Regions from separate parts of the Homo sapiens genome. Here region 2 is linked to region 1. The links come from fine-mapping of genetic effects on gene expression. Tissue or cell type: whole blood. Region 1 holds a variant in brackets; the other region holds the start of a gene. All regions are shown on one strand. Distances are between the middles of the regions.

Evidence for each region. PIP is the estimated chance that this variant, and not a neighbour inherited with it, causes the effect.
Region 2: it holds the start of EIF2S1, and the variant in region 1 is fine-mapped to the expression of EIF2S1 in whole blood (TOPMed, PIP above 0.99). The same link has a PIP of 0.9 or more in blood mononuclear cells.

Annotation. Positions count from the first base shown.
Region 1 is chr14:67,382,863-67,389,965 of GRCh38, forward strand. It overlaps EIF2S1 (eukaryotic translation initiation factor 2 subunit alpha), which reads left to right. Exons shown (of 8, transcript NM_004094.5): 8 at 453-3,654. The coding sequence ends at 578. PLEK2 (pleckstrin 2) reads right to left here. Exons shown (of 9, transcript NM_016445.3): 8 at 5,362-5,440; 9 at 4,122-4,594. The coding sequence ends at 4,467. It also overlaps a transcript of GPHN not described here. Among named protein-coding and RNA genes, the nearest start is that of PLEK2, 26 kb to the right of the region's middle. RefSeq lists a silencer at 6,430-6,724. The variant C/T (reference allele first, on the strand shown) is at 3,043.
Region 2 is chr14:67,356,518-67,363,620 of GRCh38, forward strand. EIF2S1 (eukaryotic translation initiation factor 2 subunit alpha) reads left to right here and starts at 3,811. Exons shown (of 8, transcript NM_004094.5): 1 at 3,811-3,939. It overlaps ATP6V1D (ATPase H+ transporting V1 subunit D), which reads right to left and starts at 3,287. Exons shown (of 9, transcript NM_015994.4): 1 at 3,141-3,287. The coding sequence starts at 3,181. It also overlaps a transcript of GPHN not described here. RefSeq lists enhancers at 2,398-3,184, 3,027-3,246, 3,267-4,066.

The DNA.
Region 1 (7,103 bases):
TTTTCCTTGTCCAACAAGAAAGAAGTGTGTGTACGTGCGTGCGTGCGTGTGTGTGTGTGTGTGTGTTATGGTTCCTTCTATGGAAAGGACTAGTAAGCTAGTAAGTAGTAGTTTGAGCCTGGAAGACAGGTTTTTTTAACAGGATATCTATTTGTGGTCTTGAAAGATACAGCCATTGGGGTTATTTCATGTTTTCAGTTTTAGCTTATAAAAATGACAGAAAATAATTTTCCATTTTAATACATACATCCTTTTTCTATACTATTCTCATAAGTTTCACCTCTTATTTATGTAATGGAATTTATTGCTGATAAGTCACTCAAAAGTGAACAGATATGACAGAGTTGTTAGAAAAGTGTTAAAGAGAGAAAACATTAGGCAGTAATAGTATTGAAATTAAATTTGTATAGTATTTACTACTTCAGTTTGAAATTATACCTCTGCTTCCACAGCCCAAAGTGGTCACAGATACAGATGAGACTGAACTTGCGAGGCAGATGGAGAGGCTTGAAAGAGAAAATGCCGAAGTGGATGGAGATGATGATGCAGAAGAAATGGAAGCCAAAGCTGAAGATTAACTTTGTGGGAAACAGAGTCCAATTTAAGGAACACAGAGCAGCGCTTCCTGGCTGTAAATCCTAGACTTGAAAGTTTTCCAGTATTGAAAACTTCAAAGCTGAATATTTTTTATTTCTAAGTATTTAAATGTTCTAACAGATCAGAACATGAAATGCCCTCCTAAATGTCAGCTGTTGTCACACAGTAGCTCCAACACTTTGAGCATTTTTAAGGGAGTGGCCTCATTTCACTAGAGACAAATCTTTAAGAATAGTTCTAAAATTGGGCTTGTGATTTCCATTTCTGATGTCTCCAGATTGGCACCCCTTTCTAGTTCAATGCCTCACGAGATTTGCCAGGGGCATCCAAGGCAAACAATCCCAATCTTTCTATATAAAATGTATTCAAGCAAACATCAAATAAATTTCTGGGATATTTAACTATAGGCTTCTTCCTTCTTGTCACCAGTTAAAAGCATTTTAATACTAAGACCCTAATTCTTTTATCTTTATTTTAGTCTTGATGTGGAACTGTAGGAGCAGGTGAATAAAGGATCTCTATAACAGATCCTTTCAAAAGAAGAGTTTTAGAGAAAATAAATTTAACTTTAACCACAGTGAAAGTTGACCCTTAGCGGGACAAAGCCTTAAAATGCATTGAAAGAATTAGATCGGTTCTGTGCCTTTTATCTATTTGAGATTGATGACAACCTGTGTGAGAGAATTTATCACACCACGTCCTTATTGGAATAATAAGCTACTTGCCTTGAGTTTATAATTCAGGGTGGTAAAGTATGTTTTTAAATTTTAAAAAGCAGCTGCATTTTTTATTTAGTTGGAATATCACCCAATTTTTTATTTTTATTGCTATTAAAATATCCACTAGATGCCACCTAGAGCTCCAGTTCTTTATAACAAAACAGGGATCTGTTTGAACACTTACTGTTGTTTTTTTTTTTTTACATGTTTCCATCATTTCTGTCTTTAAGAACTAATTCGTACATAATAAGTTTCATAGGTAACACATTATTTGAAGTTACAGCTACAGTAGTCAGGTGTAGAAAATCTTGAGTTGCTTTGGTCTGCTTGTCTTCATAAATTTATTCTCTTATGATACTTGAGGTACCAGTTGTATTTAATTTTATTCATTATCCCTAGATAGCTATTAAGATACTTAGATTAGACCTAACCCACCATAGTCAATCCAAGACTAGACTACTCAATATTAAAGGGTCTGGAAAATAGAAGAGTGTGTTGGGCAGGTAGTTTGTACCATTTATGAAGGTTTGTTCCTTTGTTAAATTTAGCAGCCTGTACTAGCTTTTGAAATCCAGAAGTTTTAACTTCCAGTGGCTGGTTTCTGAGAGAGTGCCATGATTGCTAGCCAGCATTCCATATTGGGAATATGTAGAGGAGAACCTGGATGTACTTAAGAGTGGCATATAATTTTCACTTCTGTCTGTTGAGGCATCAAAAAAACAAGTTTAGAAAGCTGGCAACATGAAGAATGCATTCAAAATATAACAGGTGCTTCTTTGTTGTACGCAGAGGAATTTTTTCTTTTGATTTTGTTTACTGAAATTTGTTATACTTCAAAAGCCATAACTTGAAAAATACTGGTGGCGTCGATGGTGAGTGATTTTTATCCCACGTGGGCCTTTTGCTCAGTTCCATGGCAATTTTGTAAATTGACCCTAGCCAGAGAATAGATCAGTATTTCACTGATACCACGAGGAAAAGAACAAACAAAACTTAAAAGTATTCATACACCTTGCTAACCTAAAAGACAGCAGGGACAAGATACATATGAGGACAAGGTATACACCCAGTTCTGAATAACTTGAAGAACAGGCTTGGCAAAGAAGTAAGTTTATCCAAATCTTGAATTTCTGCCAGGCATGGTAGCTCATGCCTGTAACCCTGGCACTTAAGGGGCCAAGGCAGGAGGATCACTTGAGGCCAGTGAGCTGTGATCACTCCAGTGCACTCGAGCCTGGGTGACAGGGCAAGACCCTGTCTCAAAAAAAAAAAAAAAAACCAAAAATCTTGAATCTCCCATCAAAGCCTTTTCATTAAAAATACAATTTCATCTACTCCCTACTGTACCTTTCACTGATGTCAAGTGGCTATCAATTCATATAGCTGAAAATTAGTGATAGTTTGGGTCTCATTTATGCATAAATTAATTGAAAATCAGTAATGGCCAGGAAGAAATATGAATATTCAAACCACTTTTTTCTTTTTTTTTTTTTTTTTTTGGCAAATGGTGTTATATTGCCTGGGCAGGTCTCGAAATCCTGGGCTCAAGCTATCCTCCTGCCTCTGCCTCTGTAAGAGTGTGAGCCACCATGCCCCACCCAAACCATTTTTCATATCAGTTATAGCAAAACAAGACAAACCAGTTCTTAATAATGTTCAAAGTTGGACCCATAGAGACATGCTAAGCACTACATCATGCTAAGAAGAACAGTTATTACTCAGCTGC[C/T]ATACTTCAGCCATTCTACTTTTACACCAAGAACAAAATGGCTAGAGATTTTTTTAAAAATACAAATGCCAGTACCTTGCCGAGACTTGTTCACTGATTTGCCCCAACCCCAAGGTAATGGTCATCTACTTTGCAACCTATGGAGATCCTGATAGCTCCCATACAAAGTGAGGTACACTGTTGCCAATTTGGAGGCAGGAAGCCATCAAACTAAACGTAGTTTAATTCAGATGAACACCTATCGATATTCAAAAGGCAAAACAAAAAAACTAATTCCAGGGACATTAGACCTTGGTGAAATGCCAAATGGAAAATGGTGCTTTAAAAGGTAGTCTCTTACCATATAAGGAATAAGTAAAACATTAGCTTGTGATTTCTCATTATTCAGGTCAATGTTTTAGACACGACTAACAAGGGACAGTTCAAACTATTAAAGAGAACAAATTTTTACTTAAGCACTTTGAGGTATCCACTCCCCTTAAATGTAAGTTATGTATTTTATCTGTTGATTAAGGGGAGGTCCAAGCATTTGTACTTGGCAGGAATGCTGGCAATAGCTTGTGCCAGATTACTGTATAAACTTGAAAGTAATAAAAATGTTCTTTAAAAGTATTGTATGATACAGACTTTTCACTACAGATTAACCTTCCAACTGGTGAAGTTTCTTGGTACCTATTTGTCTCAGCTTATATTCATTTTAAAACCAAAATTTAATGCCTTGATATAAATCTTCCCCATTTACATCTTTTTCTGTCCTTTAGAGCGCTCTTACTCTGCATTGCTAAATGCCCATTTTTCATAGAAAAGCTATGTAATGTATTTTTCGTATACGTGATTATGTTCTCCGACAGAGTCCATGACTTCTGTAATGTATAATATTTATGCAGGCTTGTTTTCTAAAGCAAAACAATATTCTCAATGTACAAAGTTTGGCCACCATCCCCACTTTAAGATGAACTATGTCTTAATGACAGAGATACTTGAAACGTTGCTCGAAAACTATAAACTTTGTATGGGATTCTAATAGCTAGAAACAAATTGTCAGCTTTTACTAATTCCAAAGAAGTTAAGAGAGAACCTCATAAGAAGAGAGTTTTATTCAACATTATGGCATGGCCAGTGTAATTGTTCCAACAAAGGGAACCTACTTTGGTGCCCGAGGAAATGGCTGTTTGTGATGCTGGGGAAAAGTCAAGATGCTGACGCCTAATGGCTGTTCTAGCCTTTCCAGGTTTGTAACATGAAGATGGGGAAGGAAATGGCACCACTGCTGTTTGTAATCTGAGGAACTCTTGGCAGCATTCACTCTCCAAAGCAGTACAAAACTTACAAAGAAGTCAAAAGTCTTAACACTCCCATTCTCCAGGAACTCTTGTCTGTGTCATCTGGTAGGAGGGAGGAATCCTGGTTCCCTCAGGTCCTTGTCATGTTAGCTTTTTGATAGCTTCAATCCACTCGGCTCGCTCAGCCTTGCTGCTGGCCTGAATGTAATAGTGTGTGTCATCCTTAGTAATCACTTTGAAGAGGTTTCCCTGGACATTCCCTTTAACCCCTAGGCAGAAAAAAGGGGGAAAAAAATCAGTGATTGAATAGCCATGTCTGCTTTCATCTTGAACCAGCAGAAAGTCAACTGAGACATGGACAAAAACATACAATGATGTATTTATTAAATAAAAGGTTTACAGTTAGAGAATCCTATCAGATGAGGTCCCCTTTTCCTCCCATTCCCTGTCCCTCACCAGTGCCCTAAGGCCTTCCAATGGTTATGTCTGGATATTCCTGGAAGCCCTCTTGCCTGCTCCCTATGCTCAAGATGGTAGCATGCCATAGATCTACCATTTCATTTACATCAAAGAATCCAGTATGTTTATGTTAAAAGCAAGCATAGAATTTGGAGTTTGATCTCAAATTGTTTAACTTATTGGAACCCCAGTTTCCACAGACACAAGATGGGAATAATATCTTCTTACTATGGCTGGCTATTGTGAAATTAGTATTATGATACATATTAAGGTATGTTGTTAACCCTAAAGCATTGTGTAAGCCTCACCTATTATTTTTAGGCGGAAGCTTATGGGCCATCAGCACAGAAACTGAGGGGAAAGATTATTAACATAAGGATTACTTAGTTGTATTCTTAAAACGCCAAGAACATACCCTTTGTTCAATTCTGAAATTCACTTCAAAACTCACACCACTCTGTCTCATGGAGAAAGCCCTGCTCGGCTCCCAAAGCTGTCATTTCATTAGTGGGACATTACTGAGGTGCAGGAGGGAGGCCCCTGAGATCTTCAGGCCAGGGCTGAAGTTGTACCTTACCAGTGGGAACGCCATTATCTTCCAGAGCAGACACGAGTGAACCACGAAGAGAAAACCCACCCACTGGCCTGTTCTCTTCCTGTAGAGGAAAGGAGACCCAATTAGGAATTTGTGAATGAACAAAAGGGAAGAGTTGCACTCCCCTTACAACTCAGGCCAGCTAAAGAAGTGAGTGCAAATCATTTGTAATAGAAGATGAAGCTGAACTTGGACATCACATGGCCAAAGCTGCATGCATCAGTAAGGAAGCTTGGGCCTCTTCATTTCACAGCCAGCAGCAGTAGTGCCCATCAATGTTGCAGTTACCAAGTCTCACAGACTTGCAAATCTGCTTTTCATTCCTGGAGATGTCTCAAACAGAGCCTCTGATCCAATATGCTACCCGGAAAAACATTCACTGGCTTCCTTAACCCTTGTGTGCATCTTACAAAGCAATCAGAAATATATATTTATAGTAATCATTTCTTTTTTTTTGAGACGGAGTCTCACTCTGTCTTTCAGGCTGGAGTGCAGAGGCACGATCTCGGCTCACTGCAACCTCTGCCTCCCAGGTTCAAGCGATTCTCCTGCCTCAGTCTCCCGAGGAACTGGGATTACAAGCACACGCCACCACACCTGGCTAATTTTGTATTTTTAGTAGAGGCAGGGGTTCATCACCTTGGCCAGGCTGGTCTCAAACTCCTGACCTCAAGTGATCTGCCCTCCTCAGCCTCCCAAAGTGCTGGGATTACAGACATGAGCCACTGCACCCAGCTATAGTAATCATTTCTGCAAAGTTGATAGATTCCTGCACATAGGACATCGTTACACAAATCTAGTATGTGCCTAGCAAGAAACTTCGTGTGATACAAAACTGCGATTGGTGGTATCCCTGGACGATTCAGGGCAACTTTACACACCTCGTGCCTCAGGCCCTAGGAGCCCTTCAATTAATCAATAATCAACTTCATACTGCATGTTGGGCCCAGCAAGAGGTAGGGCAAAAAATAAAATGGTTAAATAAAATACTGGAAATATTTGTACTACTAAATGCCAACGGGAGGAAAGTTCAGAGAAGGAAGGGATCCGCCCCAGCCTGGAGGGTTCAAGGGCAGTCTCAGGGAGGACAGGAGAGTCCTGTCCTGGATAGGAGAGTAGGTCCCCAGGACAGGAGAGGGGCATTCAGCCTAAACAGGAGGAAGAGTGGGAGTAAAGTGCGGAACAAATTAATTGCAGAATGCTTTTGAGATGGTTCCTTATCTTGTACCTGCAGCCCAGAGATTTGGCAATTCTTTTATTTCCTTTGCACACTTGCTTTGAGTAATCTCTTCTGCACTGTTTCCATCTATGTATGTATATGAGCATTTGTGCATGTGTACATATATATGTATATATGTATATTTACATGTATATGTATTTATAGATAGGTGTGTATAGGCACGTATGTGTGTGTATATATTTTCTCAGTTTCCTATTTTAAAAGCTGAGACAGCAGACTCATCAGGGGCACAAAGAAAGTAGGTTAGGCTAGACCATGGTGAGAGTTAAATACAAAACTAAAGTGTTTTTTTTCTTTTTTTTTTTTTTAAGTGTTTTTTCATTTGTTTATTTTTTCCTTGCTTCAAACAGGATTTGAGGTAGCCAGAAAGGAAGGAGTTTGAACTCCATCCTGTAGCCAGGCCACCATGCCCCACAGAGAGGTCAACTGGAGCTTTTTGGAGGCTCCTCCTGCCACATCCCTCCCTGGCCCTGGCCTAGCTGGG
Region 2 (7,103 bases), 26 kb before region 1:
CACTAAGACAATTCTATAGCTGAAAGGGACTTTAGACATTAACTTAAAGATTAGAAAAATGAGGCTTAGAAAAGTAAAACAACTTTCTCAAAGTTACTCAGTGAAGAAAAGGCAGGGCAGGGACTTGAACCAGACTTTTGATTCCACTGACTTTCCCAATGCTCAAACTAAGGCTCCAACCTACGTTCACTGTACCCCAAACATGTGCCTCCCCTTAAAGAGAACAATTATCACTGGCTGACTCTGCACTGACTGGTCTCACAAGAGGTCTTATCAAGTGAAGGTCGTTTAGTTTCCAGCCTGAGAAGGAGCTATCCATCTCAATGTGTGCATTTAACATAATGTATTGTTGATAGTAAATACTAGAACTTGGGCTCAAAGAGCTGGATCAAATTTAAGTCAAATTGTAGTACTGCATATTCCAGCCAGTTTATAGTAAAAGGTAAACTGGTTGATAAAATTGAATTTACCATGTTAATTTTATTTTCCTCCTAGGGAATGGCATCTTTGTGAAATGGGCAATTTTAATTCCTGAAACTCTAAGAGCAGCGTGCACACTTACAGCTAATATGTAGCAGAACCTGGATTTAGTGGACTTCTGTTGACTCCAAATTTTTCATGCGTCTTTTACTTCCACTCTACAATTGTTTTTGCTTTCTCTGGTACGAAAGTGGGTGAAAGTAACATCACAGAATAATACTGTTGAATGGAAATGTCTGTGAAACAAGCTGCCAGTATATTTTCTAGCCTATGGCTTTTAAAACTTGCTCCTTTACATGTTTCAGAGCTGCTCAGTCCTACTCAAAAAGTTTGACCTTTAGCTAGGATGATGACTTTTCTTCCAGCTGAATCAAAGACATCTGACTACATGACAAAAAGCCTGCTGCCAGCCATGGGGAAAATATTTAGAGAAGAGATTATTTCCTGCACCTGATTTTCCTCTCAATCAGCAAGCTGAGAGCTTTCAAATAGTAGTTTCACCTTCATGAGCCTATCATTTTCTTACCTAAGCCCAAAGATGTCTATTTTTGCCTCTTAGTCTCAAAGTAAAAGTTTCAAAGTAAAAACAAAAAAGTTATTCTGACTGCTGTCAAAGATAAACCCAGCCAGACATTCGTTAAAGTAGTGAAAACAGATTTTATTCAGTAAACCACTGATAGTAGGGGAAAGGGCTGAGCTCAATTCTCATTTGTGCAGAGGTGACTGGCCATTTTAAAAAAGAGAGTAAGGGAGTGGCAGGGAGCCAGCCGCAAGAAGAGTCAGAGAAGAGAAACCTTAAAGTGTTGGTCAGTGTAAACGCCATACTACCTGGCAATTAGTAAGTTACTATTCTATCCTCTCACACAGACTGGGAGACAAAGCCCCTATCCCTCCTGATGATTACGTTTCAAAGAAATGGCTCTCAAAGATACTTGAAGGGACACTTCAGAGTTGGAAGAGATACATATTAACAATTGTAAGCCTGTTTCGTAAATGCTCTAAAAAGGGAACGAGAGGGGTCTATCAATTAGGTGTTGACTAGAACAAACAGTAAATTCTCCCCCTAGCTTTGAGCTTTTTCAGGCAGGCATTTTAATGGCGGGGGCGGCGGGGGGCGGCCTGGGGTCACCCTAGGGGCAGGCCTTACATTGCTAGAAGATAAACTAGTGTCGATGTCTTTCAGTGCAGAAGTTTTGACTGAGTCATCACGTCCTAGGAGTTCTGCAGTTGTCACTACCTCGGGATAGTCCTCATCTTTATTTCCCCACAACTAGCTTGCTGCCTACTTAGTGCAAACAGCTATTAGAAAGTCAACAGGTGAAGGTAAAAAATTTAAAAACTTCATTTCATTAAGAGCTATTTAGTCACCGGGCAGAAAGAAATCTGGGCTTCAGGTTTGAATATAACTTTTATTTTAAGCATCCTCAGATTCTCTCAAAGGACAGAATGAGGAAAAACAACAAAACACCCCCACAGAGATAGGACCACAATAAAAGGGTCTAAATGTCAGGGTCAAAACTGATTTTCTGCTTCCTCACTGAAAAGAAAAAGGGAAAGCCAGGCGCGGTGGCTCCCATCTATAATCTCAGCCGCCAGGGAGGCTGAGGCCGGAGGATCACTTGAGCCCAGGGGTTTGAGGCTGCTGTGAGCTCTGATCATACCACTGCACCCCAGCCTGGGAGACCCTGTCTCTTATTAAAACAAACAAACAACAAACTAAATAAAAATAAACAGGATGAGGAGGAGAAAGGGAGCAAGTTGTTAGGCACATTTGAGAAAACGTCAAAATTTTCCTTACAAACTAGCCAAACACCTACAGTGATATGCCATTTTCCTGACAAAGAATTCAGGCCCCAAAAGAAAGGCAGCCCACAACTGAGCGTATTCCCAAGCATGAGTTCTTTCAAGAAATATTTTTTTGTGGACCTTCTATGGATTAAGACACTCTTTCATCCTGGAGAGAGCCCACAGTCTAGTGGGAGAGAAAGACACATAAACAAATATCTACTTTACAGCGTGATGACCGGTATTAACACAGGTCTGAACAAGGTGCAGCGGTGAGAGAGCAAAAGCAGTGCCTCAGAAACACAGGGATATCCTCTCACAGCAGGTGACATTTGGCGGGATCTTGGAAAATGAGTAAGGGGATCCAAGATCGAATCCGAGGGCTATGCTAGGGCGATTCGATTCCATCCCCACTTTGGCTTAGGGACCTCTTCTATATCCTCAGTAAACTTCCCTTCTCAGAGCATTTATTAAAACCTCCTTGGCCTTTCCAGACGAATGTCTGGCTACGTAAACTGTGAGCTCTGTAGGGCAGAGGTGGCGACGGTTCAGTTATATAAATCCAGTGCCCGGCTCAATAAGGGTATGTGGAATGGATGAATCCATTAATGAATAAAGACAGCAGACCTCCACAAAAGCCCGCCGGCCGGGCGCCTTTTCCTACCGGCTGGGATCGCTTCGTCCAGCCTGATTCACTCAGGAGGAATGCGCGAAGAGGCCGTCAGGAAGCCTCGCCCTAGACTCAAGAAAAGAACCTGGGAAAAGCTCAGGATCCTCCCAGGAAACAAGGACCCTCACTGTGGCCCAGGGTCTGAAGGGACCGCGCTCCGGGTTCCTAAACCTGTGAAAGCGGCTTATCCCATTCCTTTACTTACATTCGCGAGGGAAAGATTTCAATTCGGTCTTTGCCCGACATTCTGACGATAACTTTTCGGCTCGGGTCCCCGGCCGGGCAACCGAGGCTGCAATAGCTCCAGAACTGGCCTCCACAGTGTCTTCCTCTACGGGAGTCAGCTGGTTGTGTCACTTGACCCCTCTTGTTGCTAAGAGGCAGCAGGGACACCCATTTTCACTTCCGCTTCCGGTTGTCACAGGCGACGAAGGGGGAGGACAGAACAGAGGCGTTGCCCGGATGTCGAGGCGCGCGCACCGCGGAACCACCCCTCAATTCCGGTTCGCCTCCCAACCCCTCCCCATCCAGCTTCCCTGCGGCTGCGCAATACGCGGCACGCGCCAGGCCAAAGACTAGGAGCGAAGCGTGCACGCCTTGTCTTTCTCCACCTTTCGTCTTTGGTCACAGCGCCATCTCATGGTTAGCTGAAACTTTGAAAGAGGATTCATTCTTCAGAGGCAAGGAATCGGAGTCCTATGTCTTTCTCGCGCCTTGAAGGTTACTTAGCTAAAGCTAAGATAGCGAGAAACAGTACTTTTCAGGTCCTTCCATGATCTACATTCGTCCTTGTTCTCGGAGGACCCAGACTCTATGGTTAATGATGAAGAGGGGCCTCTATTCGTTCAGCGCTTGCGCATGCGAGGAGGTTCCGCATGCGCGGTGGAGTGAGCGAAGCGCACGCTGAGGAGGATCGGCGGCCGGTGAGGGGGAAGCAAGTCTGGTCTCTGTGATTGAAGAAGTCGGCTCTGGGCTCCAGTGCGGGAATCACACACATACCTCAGGTGACTAATCCCAAGCTCGGTTTCTCCAGGAACTCACTTTGGTTTGTGTCCAGTGACATGGGTGTTCGAGAGCGGGTAGGCCCCGGGCTAATACCTCCCTTTCCCGTCCCTGCGCGGGAAGTGGCTGGACAGCACCGCCACCACCCGCGCTGTCGTGGGCCTCCTCGCCGGCTCCGTGTAGGTCATCCTGTGTTCCAGAGGCATCGTTGTTCGAGCAGAGGAATCTCGTGAAGGAAAGTGGGCCGAGTGGATTGTACAGCCTCTACAATATGCCGAAAGTGAGAATGCCATGACGATGGGGCGGTCTCAGGAGAACGCTGTGACACCGTAACTCTTAACCCCGGCTCAGGACGCTGAGCACTTTGCTTTTTCCAGGCTTGAGAATTCCATCTTTTCTTCCGCCCCAACAGCTCTACCAAAAATTTCCCCTGCGTCTCAGTGGAAACCAAACTGGCCTCTTACCTGAGAAACCTGTGGGACGGGCACCGTGTTGGAAAGAGCGGGGTCCGAGTAGTTTTTCATCTGATAATTGAATGAGTCACCCCTTGAACCAAAACTAAATGAGACTTGAGTTTATTACTGTTACTATCAGTTTGTCGTATTTTGGCGACAATGAGAATAGAACTGTGTTAAGCATATGTTAGGTTAACTATGTTAGTTAAGCATAACTAAAACCTAAGATAAGGATATATTTTCGGGTTAAATACACAGTCATGCTGAGGTCTCTTTATCCTCAAAACTTAGGCTTTTTAAATTTTTATTAAGCAAAAAACATGGTTTCTTCGAGAAAAAGTATAGCAGAGAAGTCTTTATTTCCCCTCAATTGAGTTGTTATTCAAGGAACAATCTCTGTCAATAGTTTGGGGGTGACTTGTACAGAACTTTGCTACCTATTCTTAGTTCATCTGGTGCCAAAAGATGTAGTTGTCTCATGCACAGTAATGTTTGTAGAGATTCGGTGATAACTTTCTTTTTCAACTATAATGATGAAATAAAAGCTTTACTTATGTAGCACTCCTATACCAAGAACTAGCATTCAGAGAGCATTCCTAATACGTGTTAGATCCAAATTAGAATTATCACGAGAGTTGTCCCCATCACATAATATATTTTGGAAAGGAATGTGAACTTCTATATCCATTATAGCAGTTTGACCATGCACTGTTTTGAGAAAGAAGTCCTACCTACCATTTGTCATGCAAAATAACTGACTATGCAGGGTATTTGAAATTAGCCTGGAGTTTGGTTGATATATTTTGAAAGGTGGCTGATACTTTTTACATCAGAACACATAAGAGTATTATAGCATGTTGTGATATTGAGGTTCTGTGGGTTAAAGACATTCTGGATTTGATGTCGGATTACTTGAGTTTAGCTCCTACGCTAGTACTTATTAAGCATTTGTTCTTAAGGAAGTATTATAATTTAGTATTTCTGTTCCACCTTTCCTGTTCATTGCTTCACTGTGCCCTTTCATAGTACTTTGTATTGTAATTATTTGCTTGCTAGTTTGTTTCCCACTCTATACTTAATTACTTAGGTAAGAGTCTTTTTTTTTTTTCTTTTTTCTTTTTTCTTTTTTTTTTTGAGACAGAGTCTCTGTTGCCCAGGCTGGAGTGTAGTGGCACGATCTCAGCTCACTGTAGCCTCTGCCCCTGGGTTCAAGGGATTCTCCTGCCTCAGCCACTATAGTAGTGGGATTACAGGTGCCTGCCACCACACCCAGCTAATTTTGGTATTTTTAGTAGAAATGGGGTTTCACCATGTTGACCAGGCTGGCCTCGAACTCCTGGTTTCAAGTGATCCACCCGCCTCGGCCTCCCAAAGTGCTGGGATTACAGGTGTGAGCCACTGCGCCTGGCCTGGTAAGAGTCTTTCTTGTTGTATCATTAGTGCTTAGTACATAGTAGCTACTGAAAAAAAAATTAACAAATTATTATATTACAAAATGGAAATACCTTCTTTTTCTTTCAATATTTTATGTTTGACTAGCACATAATGGTTTTCAAAATGTTTTTACGTATACATGTGATACCCTCAGTAAACCTGTGATGTACATGGCACAGATGAGAAACTACAGTTCAAAGGATGTTATCTTTCCCAAGCAGCCACTTCTAGTAAGTAGCAGAGCAAGGACTGGAACACAAGGCTAGAGTTGTTCCCCGAGTTTACTATGTTAATTGCCTGATTTGACACTTCTTGAGGACCAAATAAAATAAGAATGCTGTGAAAAAGATAAAGAGGTGAAGTCACCTAGTGTGACTTCGATATTGCGGAATGATTTTTTTAAGTTAAAAAAAAAATTTAAGTTATTAGCATTTCATTAGGCAATATGTTCAAAAATTGTCAACCAATATGCAGGTTTTTGTGGTATGGATTCTTTTTGTACTTAACTACTATCTATCTTTACTATGAATAACATACCATCAACAGTATTCCTTTACTTACCCTTTATGTTGCAAAGAGACTTGTGCCTCCTGAAGAAATAGTATTCATAGTCATATCCCTTCAGGATTCTCTTACATGATTGCCCATGTTTTTTAACCATCAAATTAAGCCTTGCTTCCCCTAAAAGCATCACCTTTACTGTTTGGAGAAGCTTGGTAAGTAAATGTGGTTTTCACTGGTCAAATGTCTTGCAACTGTTCCATACATTTCTGTAACATAGTTTATTTTTATGCCCAATTTGAAACTTTTTAGCTCTCAAATTTGAGAGCTTTACATACACATATTCAACAACAGTTTCCCCACCCCCACCCTCGAAAAGCCCTGTTTAAAAACGAAACAAACAGTCAGCTGTTTCTTGGTGGGTAAGGCCATTGAATGTCTACTTCTCTTTATTTGCTAAATCCCTATTTTGTAGGGATTTTGTATTCCCTACAAAGAAATACATCTCTGCTACTGTCATTAATATGCTGCTCTTTGTTGTCAAACAGATGAGTACTAATAGTTTGCACTTATTGGTGTTATGTACTCTGGCACTGAATATATATTAATGTTGCTTTTTAAGTAAAATGTTTCTAATTATAATATATTTATGAATAGTTTTGAGAGAATATAGTCTTACTGATAAGAGGACAGACTCTGGATCCAGACTTCATGGATTCAAATCCTGACTCATCACCTGTTAGCAGTATGTGAAAGAACAAGTAACTTAACCTGTG